Linked DNA regions of Homo sapiens: region 1 is linked to region 2. The links come from fine-mapping of genetic effects on gene expression. Tissue or cell type: whole blood. Region 2 holds a variant in brackets; the other region holds the start of a gene. All regions are shown on one strand. Distances are between the middles of the regions.

Region 1 (8,339 bases), 180 kb after region 2:
ATGCTAATATATGCTAAAACAAGAAATTAAAAAGCAAACTTCACCTAAAAAGACCTTTAGAACAAATGGATCCCTTGGTCACTAAAGTATTGAATTTTACAGATAGGGTTTAACTTTTATCTCTATTCTGTACTTTGAGCCAAAACAAGAGAGAATAAATGTTTTTCTGACTTCATCCATATAATTTCATCCTGAATTAAATATTAATCAGAGCTCTATTCATGAGTTAAAGATACTTTCATTGTTCCCAGAAACATATGATTCTAAATGATCATATGATTCTACAATGGAATTTGCTTTATCTCCAGATTGGCTTAACCCAAAACAGATGTTCAGCATAATTTTTTAAAATTAAATACAATATTTGAATAACCTGACATTAGTGCTGAAATGAATCATTCGGGGAACTATTATTTTGTAACTTAAAAATAAATTTTAAGTAAGCATTGTGCAAGTCTCGTAAAACTGGCATCTGCATCCTATAATTTACCATATTTTATTTATGACTTATGGCCTACTTATGGTGGTATAAAAAGCCCACCATTCTGATTATTTATCATTATTATTTATATTCCACTGGCTTGGGAAGTAGCAATATAACTCCGTAGAGACCGATTTTCTTTAGTACCTAGTATATTCCCATGAGTGTCACTGCTTTAGAATATGTGGTAATGGCTCTAGCAGTTTAGATCAAGAAGGTGGCCTTAGCACAGACTAACCAGAGAGAGATCAATGGTTGAGTTTTTCCTTGCTTTCCCAGAATTTCAGACATTAACCAGAGCTAGCTGAGGTTATGTTTTAGAAACACAGTCTGCAGTTGGATCTGGTCTTGAGATCTTTTATTTAGCAGAATGATCCTTTTCTAATAATTAAACACTTTATCAGTTTTATTTACCAAGGAATGAGTTCTAATCTGTCCTTTCATTAGACTTGCAGAATAACGATTACACAGGCAGGTTAATTGCCAAAGATAAGGTTTCACAAATGTGAGGGTCATTTTTAACTTACCAGGTTTCAAAAATATCTAGATAACTTTACAACAAAATGGTTTATAGTCTAGAAATGTCAAGTTTATTTTAAGTTACCCTTCAACTCTATCAGGAAGACATCAGGCGTGTAGAGTCAAATTAAGAGTTTATTAGAATGATTTGTTACTTTCTGACTTCTATATAGCTCTAAGACACAAAATGCAAACTTGGCTATAACATTTTCTTACTTAAATTTGATTCAATTCATTTTTCCCCATCCTGTGAAAATATTGCCTTATGTATAAAAGGCACTGAACCTGCAAAAATAACTTAAAGGAACATGTAAAATAGCAGACTAACATCTGTTGTCCACCCCTCCCCCGAAACACTGAGCCCTCCAAAACAATGTTGTCTTTTTTTTCTGGCGGGGGTTGGGGGGGTGTTGTATTTTAATGTCCCTTTCAGTGAATATATAGAATACTGGGGCAAATGCTGTTCCGTGAATAGGTTCTTTTTCCCTTCAACAGTGTTTGAGGTTGACAAAAGAAGAGGCCACTGGGGCTGGTTAGTCGTAGGTATTAATATAATCGCCTGCCTCACGTGCGGCCCACACTGCCTGCCTTTTGTTCAGCTGTCGCACAACGCCAAGAGGTGAACAGTGCAGTGTGGTCACGCAGCTAATGTTAGACACGGCAGAAAGGCCCTTGCTCCAGAGTCTACTGCACGACTACCTCCCCGTTCACTGTTATGTGACCTGAAAACCACTCGGGTAACTAGGGTTGGGACAGTTGCATCACCTGCAGTTCTACAGTTTGGTGCCTTAAGAACCGAAATGACTTTGGCTAGACAGTGGACATTCTCAGCTAGACAGTGGACATTCTCAGGAAATCTTCATGTCGGTCAACGACAACGATCTTCTACTATAATGAATAGCTCTGAAGATGAGGACCAAATTTGAGCAAGAGTCAAATTATTAAAAGAAAACTCGAAAAGTTGAGGGGTCAATTCAGAAATCACTTCAAGCCGCCAGAAGTGGGTTAAAGTTACTGTCTGCTTCACACAAACCTTTTCCTAACTAGCTTAGAATATCCAGCTTGAATATTGCACGAATATATACAGCCAGGTAAAGAGCAAGCAGCACTTTGAGCTTTCAATACAATAGCACTTAAAGAATTTGGCTCCTGAATAAAGGTGTCAGCAAACCATGGAATTCCCAAACAGAAAAACTCACACTGCGTCTTTATTCTCTTTTCTTAAGGTCTATTGTTAACTGAAGACTCCTTGTCTTTTCAAATTCCTTCATGTGAATGGATGAGGCCAGACATCTGCCAGGATCCGCTCACATTTGCATGCAAATCAGAGACTTCGGGACACATATGGCCCTGGAGCCAATAACACTTTTACTCTAGATTTATACTGATCAAAGTGCCTTCCTGAACTTTCCACTCCTCCAGCCCTAGCTTTTAAAAATGAAATAATGAGCCTATTCCACTAACATGATTTAGATTGTCATGGCAAGACAAAACAAAACATGTTGTCTTTTAGAAAATCCTCCACGCAAAAGCCAGAGTCGGCAGCACCTGTTCCCTCACCCAATTAGAATTCCACTTTTCCTTTACGATTTAGGTTTGGGAATGAAAATACTTACGGCGGGATGGGATTTAGACTCTTAGCCTTTGCCTGTGAGCTTCAAGTGCTTCAGAACCATTTGTACCCCGGCCAGTCGTTCACTCACGGCCAGGCTCTGTTCTTGGCGCTGGGGCCGCGGCGGTGGACACGGCAAGCGAGGTCCCCTTCTCCTGGATCCGGCATCCGGGCCGAAGCGCCTGGTCCGCGTTTCCGCGCGGGCTCCCCTGGAACCGTCCCGGGACACGCGGCCCTCTCGCTGCTGGACTTTTCCCCGAGCCCCAGCTTGCCAGGCAGGGACTCCCTGGGCGGGCGGCGGGGAAGCGCCGAGTCGGCGGCCGCCCACACCCCTCTCCACGCAGCACAAAGGACACTCGCCGGCAAACTTTCCTCGCTTCTGACCCGGGCCGAGCCGGGAACTCAGCGCCAGCTCTGTTCCTGGCGGGGCTGAGGCTTCCCTCACATTCCAGGCCACCTGGCAAACGTCCTGAGGCTGCCACTCCTTCTGGGCTCAAGGCTCACGGGCTGAGGTCTGTCCCCGCGTGGAGCTCAAGGCTCACGGGCTGAGGTCTGTCCCCGCGTGGAGCTCAAGGCTCACGGGCTGAGGTCTGTCCCCGCGTGGAGCTCAAGGCTCACGGGCTGAGGTCTGTCCCCGCGTGGAGCTCAAGGCTCACGGGCTGAGGTCTGTCCCCGCGTGGAGCTCAAGGCTCACGGGCTGAGGTCTGTCCCCGCGTGGACCGCCGAGAGTTCGGTAGATCCTTCCCAAGGCTCTGACTTCAATACTTTCAGTGCCTTGTCAATTATACCCCTTGCCCCTTTCTCTTACCAAGGCCACCGCCAAGACACCCTTTTTCTTTCCTCTCCCCGTCGCCCGCCACCTTCCTTGCCCTCCTCTTGGCCCTCTTTCCAGCTCCCTGGGCCCCCTTTCCGCGCTGCTCTCCAGCCCCAGCTGCCTTCCCCGGTTCACATCCCGGCAGCCCTCCTCCCTCCCCGTCCCCGGGCACCTCCCTCCCCTGGTCGGCCCCTGAAATCCAGCAGGCTCGGCTCCGGTCACTGCCTTTTTTTGCCTGTTTCTATCTGGCCTGCCTTCCCAACTATCGCTCTCCCACACCTTTTTTTTTTTTTTTTTGGCAAGGGGGACGGGGGGAAACGGGGCACTATATTCTCGTTTCCCGACTTCGTCATTTTCCCCAGCTCCGTGAGCCGCGCCCCCTCGTCCCCCTCAGGCCCGCGATCTTACCCTGAGGTTCCCCAGACCCCGTAGGGTCTCCCACGCCACCAAGTTTGCCTCGACTTCCCCTCGCTGCCTCCCACACCTCCTGCCGCGGCGCGGCCGGCCAGGGACTTACCCCGAGGCCCAGCTGGTGGGGGTGTTGGGGTGCGCGCGGACCCGGCACCCACGGCGGCGGCGGCGGCAGCAGCAGCAGGAGGAGGAGAAAGACGAGGAGGAGGAGGAGGACTAGCTGAGCGGCGCCTCCTTCCCAGCCCGCAGCGCGCACTGGCTCCTTGGGGCACCCCCGGGAGAGCACCAAGACCGGAGACTAGGCGGCGACACAGGCAACCGCTGCTGCACGGGGCTGGGCTCAGTCGGCTCTCAGAGGCCAGGGCAGGGGGAGGCAGGACTGGGAAGGAGGGTCGGAGAAGTGGGGTGCAGAGGGCGGGGCAGCGAGCGGCCAGGTCCGGAGGAAGGCGCCCCAGGCGCCTAGGGATGCCGCCGCCCGGGCTGACGCCGTCGGCCCCTCTCCCCGCCAGGCGGGCGCTTGCAGCCGCGGGCGCACGGGCCTCGCCTCGTTCACCGGCTCGTTGCCGGCGCCCGCGGTGCGCCCCGCTTTGTGCTCCCCGCAGCCGGCGTGCACCTGGTGTAAGCAAAGGCGGTCAGCTGATGGGCCGCGCGCGGATTGGCTGCTCCGCCGTCTCCTCCCCTCCCGCCCGACCCTCTTCGCGGCCTCCCGCCCCCGCCCTCGGCGCGGCCCCGTGCTGGGCACCATCTGTGGACCGCCCAACAAAGGCGCAGCGCGGCGGGGCTCGGGTGGCCGGGCCGCGGTCGCCGCTTTTTGTCTAGGGGACGGCAGGCTGCGGCTGGGCAGGGAGGCGAAGCGCACTGCCGGTTTTTAGCAAAAGACAGACCAAAAGAAAATACACGTCCGTGCTAGGAGGCCAGCTAGGCACAATGGGGCCCCATCTCTTTGCGGCGTAGAACTCGGGCTCGGGGGCTGAGAACCAGACACAGTTCGGCCTGGGGCTGTGGGAGCCAAGTTTCGGGGTGAAATCCGACCCTGCGTCTTAAAATACAGGGCGCGTCCTCGGGCTGTGTGTGCGCGCCCGGGGGCGTCCTCCGCAGACCTGGCCCGGGCCGGTGTCCCTGCCGCGGGAAGGAGGATTCGGACGCTTAACTCAGCGGCGAAGTCGCTTCCCATTGGAGGAGGCTTTCCGAAAACGTTTCTGAAACTTTGAAATTACAGCTTTCTGATTTGTGAGGGGTGGAAGTTGTGTTTAAACAGGCGGCGAGGGACTGAGAAGGCAGTGTTAAGTGGAGGTGTCTCCGAGGAAGGGGAGGAGGGTGGGGACGGAATAGGTCTTCGGAAACTGCGCGTGAACCTGCGTCTCAGCTTCAAAGTCGCCAGCCGGAAGCAGGGCTTCAGAAAAGCCTTGGCACCCTTTATTGGGGGAATCGGCTTTAAGCGAAAGCATCATTAGCCCCTCAGTACTGAACAACTTCTGGCAGAGGAACGTGGTGACATTTCATTATGATGTCTAAACTTAGAACTTCTGGAGAATTTGGAAGGATACATTATTCGAGAATCATCCTTTGGATTCTTCAAAGCCACAGGATACATTCAATGTCAGTAACCATATTCTTGATCCCTGTAACATTTATTGGCGTTTCGCTTAGGTCTCTGATAAATGTTTGACGTCTTTGTGTGTCTTCACACTTTGTTATCCTGAAACTGTGTCATGTAGACATAAATGGTCACAGTTTGTCTTAAAAGTCTTTAGGAAAAGGTGATACTAGCACTTGGGCTAGAAGGTCGTGCAGAGCAGAGGAAGAAAAAGGCCCACTGCTGTCTACAAATGAATGGGAAGATTTAAGATCTTTCAAAGCAAGTTGAGTCTAGACCCTTGCCCAAGTTTTGTAACATGATTTTGTCTCTTTCCCCCCTTTTCATGCAGATTATCCATGGAGTTAGCATGCAGATAGCATGGAGTTTGTCTGATAGAAGTTGGGCTCTGGTGGAAGTACGGAAATTGAATGGTCAGGGAAAGATAGAATGCAGGTTTCTTAGGGAGTCTCTATTAGGTTTCCAGCCTGCCTTCCTGGGAGTGGAAGAGAGATGAGGTTGTGCCCTTCAAGGAGGAGCTTTACAGAGGTAGGTCTTGGAGGAGCAGTCGGAGCAATTAATGATGGTGAGAGTTGCTCTTGGGAGGCCAGATCTAGAACAGCCTCCAGGTTTTGGAAGAGACTTCATGAGAATGGTGTGAGTCAGGGACCAAGGTGTGAATTTTGAAACCAGGCCAACACTGCTTAGGTCCCAGCCCTGCAATTTATGAGCTGTGTCCCTAATGGCAAGTCACTTTATCTCTTTAAGGCTTAATTTCCTTGGCTCTAAAGTAGGGTTAATATCAGTACTTATCCCAAAGGATTGTGATGGTTAAGTGGGAGTAAACATGTAAAATGCTTAGGACAGTGCTTAGTATATAGTAAGCATTCAACGACAGATGTAAGCTCTAGGCATTATTAGGCAGGTATTGAAGACTAAAACAAGACATCAATTCAGACAGGTGGGATAATGATTCCGCATGTGACAGAATATCTCAAAGGCACTAGCTGCTCCAGTGGAGGAAATGGACTCTGTCTCTCCACTGTTCGATTCATTTCTTTTCAAATTAGCATATCATTTATTTAAACTAATTTCCCTCTTCCCCAAGGCAAGAGTGAGAAAGGCAGCTTTTCCCATTTCTACTTGACCACTGCATGCATTTGGTTCCAGACAGAGAGAAGAGCATTATCATTAGGAAGAAATGTGTGTCAGGGATGGGGGAAGGAATTTGGGTGAGAGGATGGGGCTTGCTGTGGACAGAAGAGGAAAAATGAGCATGACAATTATGAAAGAGTCTGAAATGTGGTGTAATTATTAGAAATTTGCTGAATTGCCTGAATTGGTAATTGGTCCAAATTTTAGAAATTACCCTTTTTTAACTCTGCAAAGGGGTTTCGGGACTGTCTTGTTAACTGACACTTAAAAGCTCCTTGTCATTGGGATGGATGAAGAGGAAACACGCATTTTTGCATCATTGGACGAAGAGGAATCAATGAACCAGCATAACCAAATCTCTTACTTGCTTCTTGCTTAAAGAGCTCAAATCCATCTGAATTACTCCTAATGAGCTCACCCAGTCCTGGGATCCTGAATTTATTAGTTAGTAAAAAAGCACTTAATAGTTATTTATTAAGGTGTGGTAGAAGACCTTGGAATTTTTGAAGGAGAACGGAATTGGAGACAAGAGCCCAAGAGTTCCCAGGAGAGCAAGGTCTTATTGTTGATGTAAAGAGTTCTTGCCCCTCGATTGGCTGTGTTGAGACACTACAAACCCCTCTGGATTCCCCTACCAGCCCCTTGAGGTTCTTTAGCTTTGGTTTGAAGGAACATTATCATTGGTGTTAGCCTAATTGTACTGATCTATGTGGTAAATGAGGAAAAAAAAGAAAGATGAAACTTCAGAAGACAGTCGTATTTGAATAATCTTTAGAAGAACATCTGTATTTTGAAAAGAAAATTATCATATGCCTCTTAAAACTGCAATTTTTCAAAGTTGAAAATATGTCTCTCTCTAATTGAAATATTAATAGAGTACCGGTAGTCAGAGTTCTTTCCAATTTCTGAACTGAAATTATGATTTTAAAACAACCACCACCAAGCTCTTAGAGGGTGATGACTGTAGCTTAAAATTTTGTGACTATTGTGATCATTGTTAACTTTCATACCAAATGTATTGTTTCTCTAAGAATTTTTGACAATGAGTGGGTTTACTACATATACGTAGTTCCTGTTCTTCTCGGGTTTTGTTTGTTTGTTTGTTTGTTTACTGCATATGAAACATCCCAACACAAAAAAGGGATTAATTGACGTTTCTGTAATTAAAACTAGTTTTTGCATTTAAGCTTAAAAATTTGACATAGAACTAAAGTGACCAACCATCTTAGTTTGCCTGGGAATCTCCAGGTTTTAGTCCTAAAAATCTCAACATCTCAGGTCACACCTTAGTCTTGGATAAACCAAGATGGTGGGCGGTTCTAAATAGAACTAACATTAATAGGTTTATGGTGCTGTTACAATTTTAGTTGAGTTGCAGCTTTGCAGATATATCAAATAATGTTTTATTCCTGACTGAATAAAGGGTCCTGTTTCCACTTGTAGAACTTAGTTGTTGCAGAGATGTTGACAGTCATTGTATTGGTCCATTTTCATACTGCTATGAAGAAATACCCAAGACTGGGTAATTTATAAAGAAAAAGAGATTTAATGGACTCATAGTTCCCATGGCTAGGGAGGCCTCACAATCATGGCAGAAGGCAAAGGAGGAACACAGGCACATCTTACATGGCAGCAGGCAAGAGACCATGTGCAGGAGAACTGCCCCTTAGAAAACCATCAGATCTTGAGACTTATTCACTATCATGAGAACAGCACAGGAAAAACTCACCCTCGTGATGCAATTACCTCCCACTGGGTCCCTCCCACGACA
Region 2 (8,339 bases):
TAGATACTAACCTCTCAAGACCCAGGCCAGAGTCTAGCTAGATTTAACACCTTCAGCTGGATACAATGACCACCTGGACCAGGTAATCTTTTCACATGCATAATTTAAAGTATTATTTCAATAGTTTTTTGATTATAAAAGTAAAACATTACTATTGCAGGAAACTTGAAAAGTATAAAATAGAAAGTTCAAACAAGAAAATTAGAAACACCCCAAATCCTACCACTCAGAAATACCCACTGTCAATATTCTACACACTTCAACATAATTGAGATCCTAGTTTGTATACAATTGTTTGTTGCCGAACATTACGTCATAACCACTTGTTAAACCTTTGAAAATACTTCTTAAGCATTATTTTTAATAGCAGGTTTACACAGAAGAAGATTCTTAGTTTATATAACATATCCTCTATTGTTGATATTTAGATTGTTTCAAAATTTTTCTGCTTCTATATTCTGTTCAAAGAATGACTTTCTTCATAAAGTTTCTTTACTCTTTAGATATTTTGGTAGGATGATTTTCTAGCAATAGATTTATGTCAAAAGATATGGATGTTTTTTAGACTCCCAGTATGTACTATCTTTATAGAACTATTATGTTGCTGTATCCTCTGTTTAATTTTTGTGTTTCCTCTTACGCTTTTCCGATAGGGTGCAAGATTTTCTGACACTGAGAATGACTATGTCCACCAACGCTAGGCCAACCACTCTAGTGCCAATCAACTGATTAATGACGGTCCTTTGACTTTGACTTAGACCCTGTGAGAGATTTTATAAGAAGTGAAACATATGGTTGTGTTGTAGAAGTTTATAATCCAGCAAAAGTAATGCATGTGGAAAAATTCACAAACAATTCAAGATAGAATCTCTGTAACCCTTCTTTGTAGGACACATGTGCAATAGGAATCTGAGGTCTCTACAATGTATATTCCCAATGATTATTGTGATCAATCCTGGGGCACCATCTATTCTAGGTTTCAGGGAGCAATTTCTTATTCTCTCTTTTCAATGAAGGTGTCTCGACATACCAACCGTTCATATCATGTTCATAGCGTGATCTTGAACACAAAACCACACAGCCTCTCATTCTGGAAGGGCAAGAAGCTGAGCCTCTGCTAGGAAGTGTTTCTCTGTCAGACTCTCCAGCTAGAGTCTAGCTGCTCTTTCCAGAGGCAGCTCCAGGCGAAGGACTTTCTTGTTGTTTGTAGCCACAAGTCCGACAACTACTTTCCATGGTGTCTCTCTTCAGGGGTGTTACTATTCAGCATTGCTCTTGCATATCCTCCCATCAGAGTAGTTCAATAGACTCTTTGGTGTCTGCTGAAGTCTGGCTTTCTGGGCTCCCTCTCAAAAACGGCATATTTAGCCTTACTCTTGGCATCACCTCTGCAGGGCGTCGGACAGCACTGCACCCATGGCTTTGCATAAGTTCTCAACCCTTCAGAGGAATGAAGGAAGCTGCAATTGCCCCCAATTCATAAGCCAAGGGTCTAGGCACTGCCTTCTTGTTGAATGCTGACCAACATTCAAATTTAAGTATTCTTGCCTATCTGATAAGCAAAAATGTTCCTGATGTTTTAACTTGGAAGAAATTATTTCAATATCATGATTTCCATAATTTCTATCATTTGGTGTTCTTATAAAAGCTATCTCTCATCTTATTCTGGAGATCTTTCCTTCACATAGGAACCTCTACATGACACAGAAAAGAAAAGATAGATGGGCGGCGAGAGTCTAGATTTATATTCTAGCTGTTATGCATGGTGAGGCCAGCTTAAGAAACACGTGGCTTTTGAAAGACTTTCCATTGTATAAGGAGCAGACCAGACTTTTAACCACAATCCAGAGACTTTTAACTTCACAAAGATATGGCATTTTATTTTAATAAAGCTATCGAGAGAGCTCCCTTTTCGAGTGACTTTTCAAACGCATCTTTTGTCAGCAGAGGGCTTTTATTAGCTAATGTAACCTTTCTGTACTCCATGTTAGCAGAGAGAGAAAGGAAATGTCCTTGGGTTCCAAATGTGGAAAGTTGTGCAGAGACTCTCAAGGAGAAAGAAGTTTTCCGCTTTCCAAAGCTGCATTTGTCACTCGCTGTTGTATCGTAACTGAAAGTAATGAACTTTCCGATGCTACTGTCCAGAAGGTAAAGGTTTACAAGATTATGCCTCTAAACTGGCAATTGCATAAAAAGAGATCACCAAGGATTAAAATGTAGAGACCAAGTAAAAGTGTGAATTTAGCTGTGAGTGATAACTTGTAGAGACTCAGCTATAAAATACCTGAAATGGGGGGAGTTAGGCAAGACCTAGGAGTGAGGAGTGAGAGTAACAGTCTTGGCTGTGGAACAGGGTAGCTAGATGTTTAGGGCTTAATCCGAGCCACTACTGATAATTAAACAGCATCGATAAACTGAAGGAGCATGGGGAAGGAGTATGGATTGTGGGCTCCGGGTGCAATTCATGTGGGGTGTCGGTGTTGTGGTTCCATTAATCAGTCGTTTGATGGAAGAGCTCAGTCAGTAGTGGAAGAGGCTGGTGGCAGGGGCTTTGACAGGTCTTAGGACACTGGGAAAATAGATTGAGATTCTAGAGCAGGGCTAGTGCAGTGTGGGATCTGAACGTGTTGTCAGGACTGAGCCCAGCCCTTTGATTACAGTCAACATAGTAGGAATGGAGAAAGTCACACCTAAATGGGAACCTGAACCAGGGCTTCATTTCAAAGCCCATGGAACAGATAGGGAAGGGTGACTAATGACTTTTCTACTGTTGCAGACTGGCTTACAAACTGAGTAAGGCACAAAAGGAAGAACTGGTGTTGATAGCAAAGTGTCATCAGAGAAGGCAGGAAGGACACCCTGTCATACTGCCCGTTGGCTCCCCAGATATCACTATTTTTTTTTCCTCATCCTTGTTAGGAACTGGCAGGTAGTTGTGCTTGATGTCTATTAGACTTCATTTCAATTTTGAGGTCCATAATTCAATGGGGATAGATATAAAAAGGCTTCCTTTTTCATTAAAAGGGTAATTACCTCGTTATCAGAGTGCTGGAAAGATGAGAGCTCATGGATTTTTCATAAAATTATAAGTTTATAAGGAGTCGGGTGAAGTCATCTTATTCTGTCCTCAAGCCAGGGACAAATCTAATTCACCCTTGATGGATGGGACATTGTTTAACAAGGATCTCTAGAGAATAAGCGTTGATAACTTTCAGTATTTTGCAACCTTCAGTTGTGTTATTTCTTCTATCCTGTTGAATATATTGACACAGAATGGAAGTCCATAATTTTTTTGTTCTCTTTGGGTAGAAAGAATAGTGTTATAAATGTACTTCATTTTCATTATGTTAAAGAATACTTATCAAATGCCTTGTATGTGCTTGGTGCCAGATACAGCTGTGACACAGGGAAGAAGACAGACTTGATCCCTGCTGTCATTTAGCTGTGAGACTCATGAGGGATAATAACCAATAATCACATCAGTAAATGACTACAAATTGTAATAAGTGCTGTGAAGGAAACACTAAGGCATTGCTACAGAGGATAACAGGAGGAAGCTAAGACCTCACTGAGCCTGTGGCTCCGGCCGCTGAGTGATGGTCCCTTCTGTCTGCCAGGGTGGGATCGGGCACTCATCCAGTTGCAGGTGCGAGCACTATTGAGTAGCACAGGGTCTCAAGCTGTGGCCATGGACTTGGGCAACAGGAAATTAGAAATATCCTCTGGAAAGCTGGCCAGATTTGCAAATGGCTCTGCTGTAATACAGTCAGGTGA[C/T]ACTGCGGTAATGGCCACAGCCGTCAGTAAAACAAAACCTTCCCCTTCCCAGTTTATGCCTTTGGTGGTTGACTACGGACAAAAGGCTGCTGCAGTAGGTAGAATTCCCACAAACCCTCTGAGAAGAGAGATTAGTACTTCTGATAAAGAAATTCTTACACGTTGAATAGTAGATTGTTCAGTTAGACCTATCTTTCCAGCTGGCTACTTCTGTGATATACAGGTTCTGTGTAATCTGTTAGCAGTAGATGGTATTAATGAACTTGATGTCCTAGCAATTAATGGCAACCTCTGTAGCCCTCTCATTATCAGATATTCTTTGGAATGGACCTGTTGGGACAGTATGAATAGGAATGACTGATGGAGAATGTGTTGTTAACCCAACAAGAAAAGAAATGTCTTCTAGTACTTTAAATGTAGTGGTTGCTGGAGCACCTAAAAGTCAGACTGTCATGTTGGAAGCCTCTGCAGAGAACATTTTACAGCAGGACTTTTGCCACGCTATCAAAGTGGGAGTGAAATATACCCAGCAAATAATTCAGGGCATCCAGCAGCTGGTAAAAGAAATTGGTGTTACCAAGAGGACACCTCAGAAGTTATTTACCCCTTCACAAGAGATTGTGAAACATGCTCATAAACTCACTATGGAGAGACTCTATGCAGTTTTTACAGATTATGAACATGATAAAATTTCCAGAGATGAAGCTGTTAACAAAATAAGATTAGATACAGAGGAACAACTAAAAGAAATATTTCCAGAGGTCGATCTATATGAGATAATAGAATCCTTCAATACTGTTGCAAAGAAAGTTTTTAGAAGTATTATTTTGAATGAATACAAAAGATGCGATGGTCGGGATTTGACTTTACTTCGGAATATAAGTTGTGAGGTAGATATGTTTAAAACCCTTCATGGATCAGAATTATTTCAAAGAGGACAAACACAGCTGCTTTGTGCTGTTACATTTGATTCATTAGAATCCAGTATTAAGTTGGATCGAGTTATAACAACTATAAATGGGATAAAAGATAAAAATTTCATGCTGCACTATGAGTTTCCTCCTTATGCAACTAATGAAATTGTCAAAGTCACCGGTATAAATAGAAGAGAACTTGGGCCTGATGCTCTTGCTGAGAAAGCTTTGTATCCTGTTATTCCCAAAGATTTTCCTTTTGCCATAAGAGTTACATCTGAAGTCCTAGAGTCAAATGGGTCATCTTCTATGGCATCTGCATGTGGTGGAAGTTTAGCATTAATGGATTCAGGGCTTCCAATTTAATCTGCTGTCACAGGTGTAGCAATGGGATTGGCCACCAAAACCGATCTTGAGAAGGGTGAAATAGAAGATTATCATTTGCTAACAGATATTCTGGGAATTGAAGCTTACAATGGTGACATGGACTTCAAAATAGCTGGCACTAATAAAGGAATAACTGCATTACAGGCAGATATTAAATTACCTGGAATAACAATGAAAATTGTAATGGAGGCTATTCAACAAGCTTCAGTGGCAAAAAGGAGATTTTACAGATCATGAACAAAGCTATTTCAAAACCTCAAGCATCTAGAAAAGAAAATGGACCTGTTGTAGAAACTGTTCAGGTTCCATTATCAAAATGAGAAAAATTTGTTGGACCAGGTGGATATAACTTAAAAAACTTCAGGCTGAAACAGTTGTAACTATTAGTCAGGTGGATGAAGAAACGTTTTCTATATTTGCACCAACACCCGGTGCTATGCATGAGGCAAGAGACTTCATTGCTGAAATCCGCAAGGATGATCAGGAGCAGCAATTAGAATTTGGAGCAGTGTGTACTGCCACAATAACTGAAAGCAGAGATACTGGTGTAATGGTAAAATTATATCCAAATATGATTTTGGTACTGCTTTATAACACACAACTTGATCAATGAAATATTAAACATCCTACTGCCCTAGGATTAGAAGTTGGCCAAGAAATTCAGGTGAAATACTTTGGATGTGACCCAGCTGATGGAAGAATGAGGCTTTCTCATAAAGTGCTTCAGTCTTCAGCTACAACTGTTGTCAGAACTTTGAATGACAGAAGTAGTATTGTACTGGGAGAACCTATTTCACAGTCATCATCTAATAATTCTCAGTGATCTTTTTAAAGAGAATTCTAGAATTCTATGTTTTCTAGGGTAATGTGCTATAGAGCAAAATTTTAGTAGTATCTTCCGTTGTGTAGCTGTGTATACAGTATAAATATATTCTAATTATTTGTATTAAAATGCTCATTTACATGTGCCAATTTTTAAATTCAAGAGTAACCCATATTCGCTTAATCTTATTTACATTATAAATCAAGAAATATTATTAAAAGTAAGTCATCCATACATCTTAGAAAAGATTACATACTTTTTTTTCTATAATTCTGAAATATATGAAAAACTTAGATATATGTCATATATGTTATTATAACAGATCTCTTCCTATATCTCATTTGTCTTCTTTATATACAGTAGTGACAATTTACCCTCAGTCATCCTATAGCTCACCTCTTTGCCCAACAACTTTACTTGCCTACGACTGTTCACAAACTGGAACAGGCCATATTCAAAGCCAGTGCCTATTTCTTCAGAATGGTTACTAGACATAGTAAGTTGAGGGAGCTAATCTGATACACTTTTAATAATACGATGCCTTCCAAGTTGGTTACAAAATCATGAACATAGTGGAATAAATATAAATGAGATTCTAACTAGGATGAGGTAGTAATTATGTATATTTTTCAAATTTACCTAAACATAGGAAAATTATTTACTTGTCTAATTGAACTAGGTCACTTTTTGAATATGTATATTGCTCTAATGTATGGAAGTTCTTAGTATAAGAGCTGGAGGAATCATCACTTTCAGTTAATAGATGTTTGAAATAGATGTTTAGAGGTTACTGATATACATGTCAACTTGTTCATTCCCATCATTTAAAATATCACCTTATAATTCCACACAAAAGTAAATGGTATGTGGACGTCATAATTTAGAATATGTTATCTTTTTAAAAATCTTATAAAAATACACCGGACTCAGTGGCACATGCCTGTAGTCCCAGCTACTTGGGAGGCTGAGGTCGGAAGATCACTTGAACCCAGAAGTTCAACACTGTAGTGTGCAATGATCATGCCTGTGAATAGCTACTTCACTCCAGCCTGGACAACATAGCAGGACTCTATCTCTAAAAACAGTTTTAAATCTCATAAAAAATAAGTAAATCTGGCCGGGCATGCTGACTTGTGCCTGTAATCCCAACACTTTGGGAGGGTGAGGCGGGTGGATCACCTGAGGTCAGGAGTTCGAGACCAGCCTGGCCAACATGGCAAAACCCTGTCTCTACTAAAAATACAAAAATTAGCTGGGTGTGGTGGCAGGTGCCTGTAATCCCAGCTACTTGAGAGGCTGAGGCAGGAGAATCTCTTGAACCTGGGAGTTGGAGGTTGCAGTGAGCTGAGATCACGTCACTGCTCTCCAGCATGGGCAAAGAGAGTGAAACTATCTCAAAAAAAAAAAAAAAAAAAGTAGGTAAATTTATGACTCAGGGCTAACTAGTTCATAAAATATTAAAAGTTTAGCTGGTTAAACCAAAGATTTTAAAGATATGTATATTTATATCAAACATTGATCATGTATCTATTGTGTGTAAAACAGCATGTTAGGCAATGTTGATATACTTTCTGAAATATTAAAGATTAATTGAAATTGAAAGATTAAATTAAAAAAAATATGTCATTGAGATGAGTGATCAGGAAAGGCCTCTTTTTTAGAAGTGACATATAACATGAGCCCGGAATTATAAAAGGAACCAGCCTTTCACAATGAAAAGAGCACTCCTGACAGTGGGAGCAGCATGTACAAAGGTCCTGCACTAGAAAAAGCGTGGTATGTTTTGAGAATTTAGAGAGTTCAGTATACCAGGAGCAGAGGGGTCAAGGAAGAAGGTGGCACGCCATGAGATTAGAGAAGTAAGCGGACAAATAATGCCTGATCTTATAGGCAATGGTGAGGGGTTTGGATTTTATTGTAAACGGAATGTCTTTAAAAGATCACTCTGGCTACTGTGTGGCAAATGAACTGGAAGTGGAAAAATCAGAACAGAGAGAGAGGTTAGGAGGCAGTCCAGGAACAAGATGTTGGTGGCTTGGACTAAGGTGGGGTCAGAGAAAGTGGATAGATGTTTTCGAGATACACTTAGGAGGTCTTACTGATGGTTGGCTGTAGGGAAAGAGTAAAGAAAAGATACCAATTCAAGGCTGACACTGGTAAGATGATAGTTCCATCTAGTAGATAGAGAACAAGCAGGGAGGAACAAGTCTGTAGTGGGAAGGATGGGGGGTAGATGTTTACATTTGCACATGTTAAGTTTGAGCGGCCTGGGAGACCCAGAAATAGAACTGTTGATTCTAAGTCTGGAGTTCAGAGATGTCAGAACTGGAGAAATACGTTTGGATGACTAAGTCTGTCAATGAGAATAAAAGCTTGGGAAAAGAATGAGATAAGGAAGAGGAGGAGAGAGAAAGAAAGAGGCCCAGTTGTGAACTTTGAGA

The links.
Region 1: LRRN1 starts here. The variant in region 2 is fine-mapped to the expression of LRRN1 in whole blood (TOPMed, PIP above 0.99).

The regions. Positions count from the first base shown.
Region 1 is chr3:3,795,524-3,803,862 of GRCh38, reverse strand. LRRN1 (leucine rich repeat neuronal 1) reads right to left here and starts at 4,432. Exons shown (of 2, transcript NM_020873.7): 1 at 3,944-4,432. It overlaps LOC100130207 (a long non-coding RNA gene), which reads left to right and starts at 2,988. Exons shown (of 6, transcript NR_149025.1): 1 at 2,988-3,162. RefSeq lists silencers at 1,284-1,578, 4,112-4,221, 4,362-4,451, 4,462-4,531.
Region 2 is chr3:3,979,531-3,987,869 of GRCh38, reverse strand. It overlaps the pseudogene PNPT1P1. Among named protein-coding and RNA genes, the nearest start is that of LRRN1, 180 kb to the right of the region's middle. The variant C/T (reference allele first, on the strand shown) is at 3,775.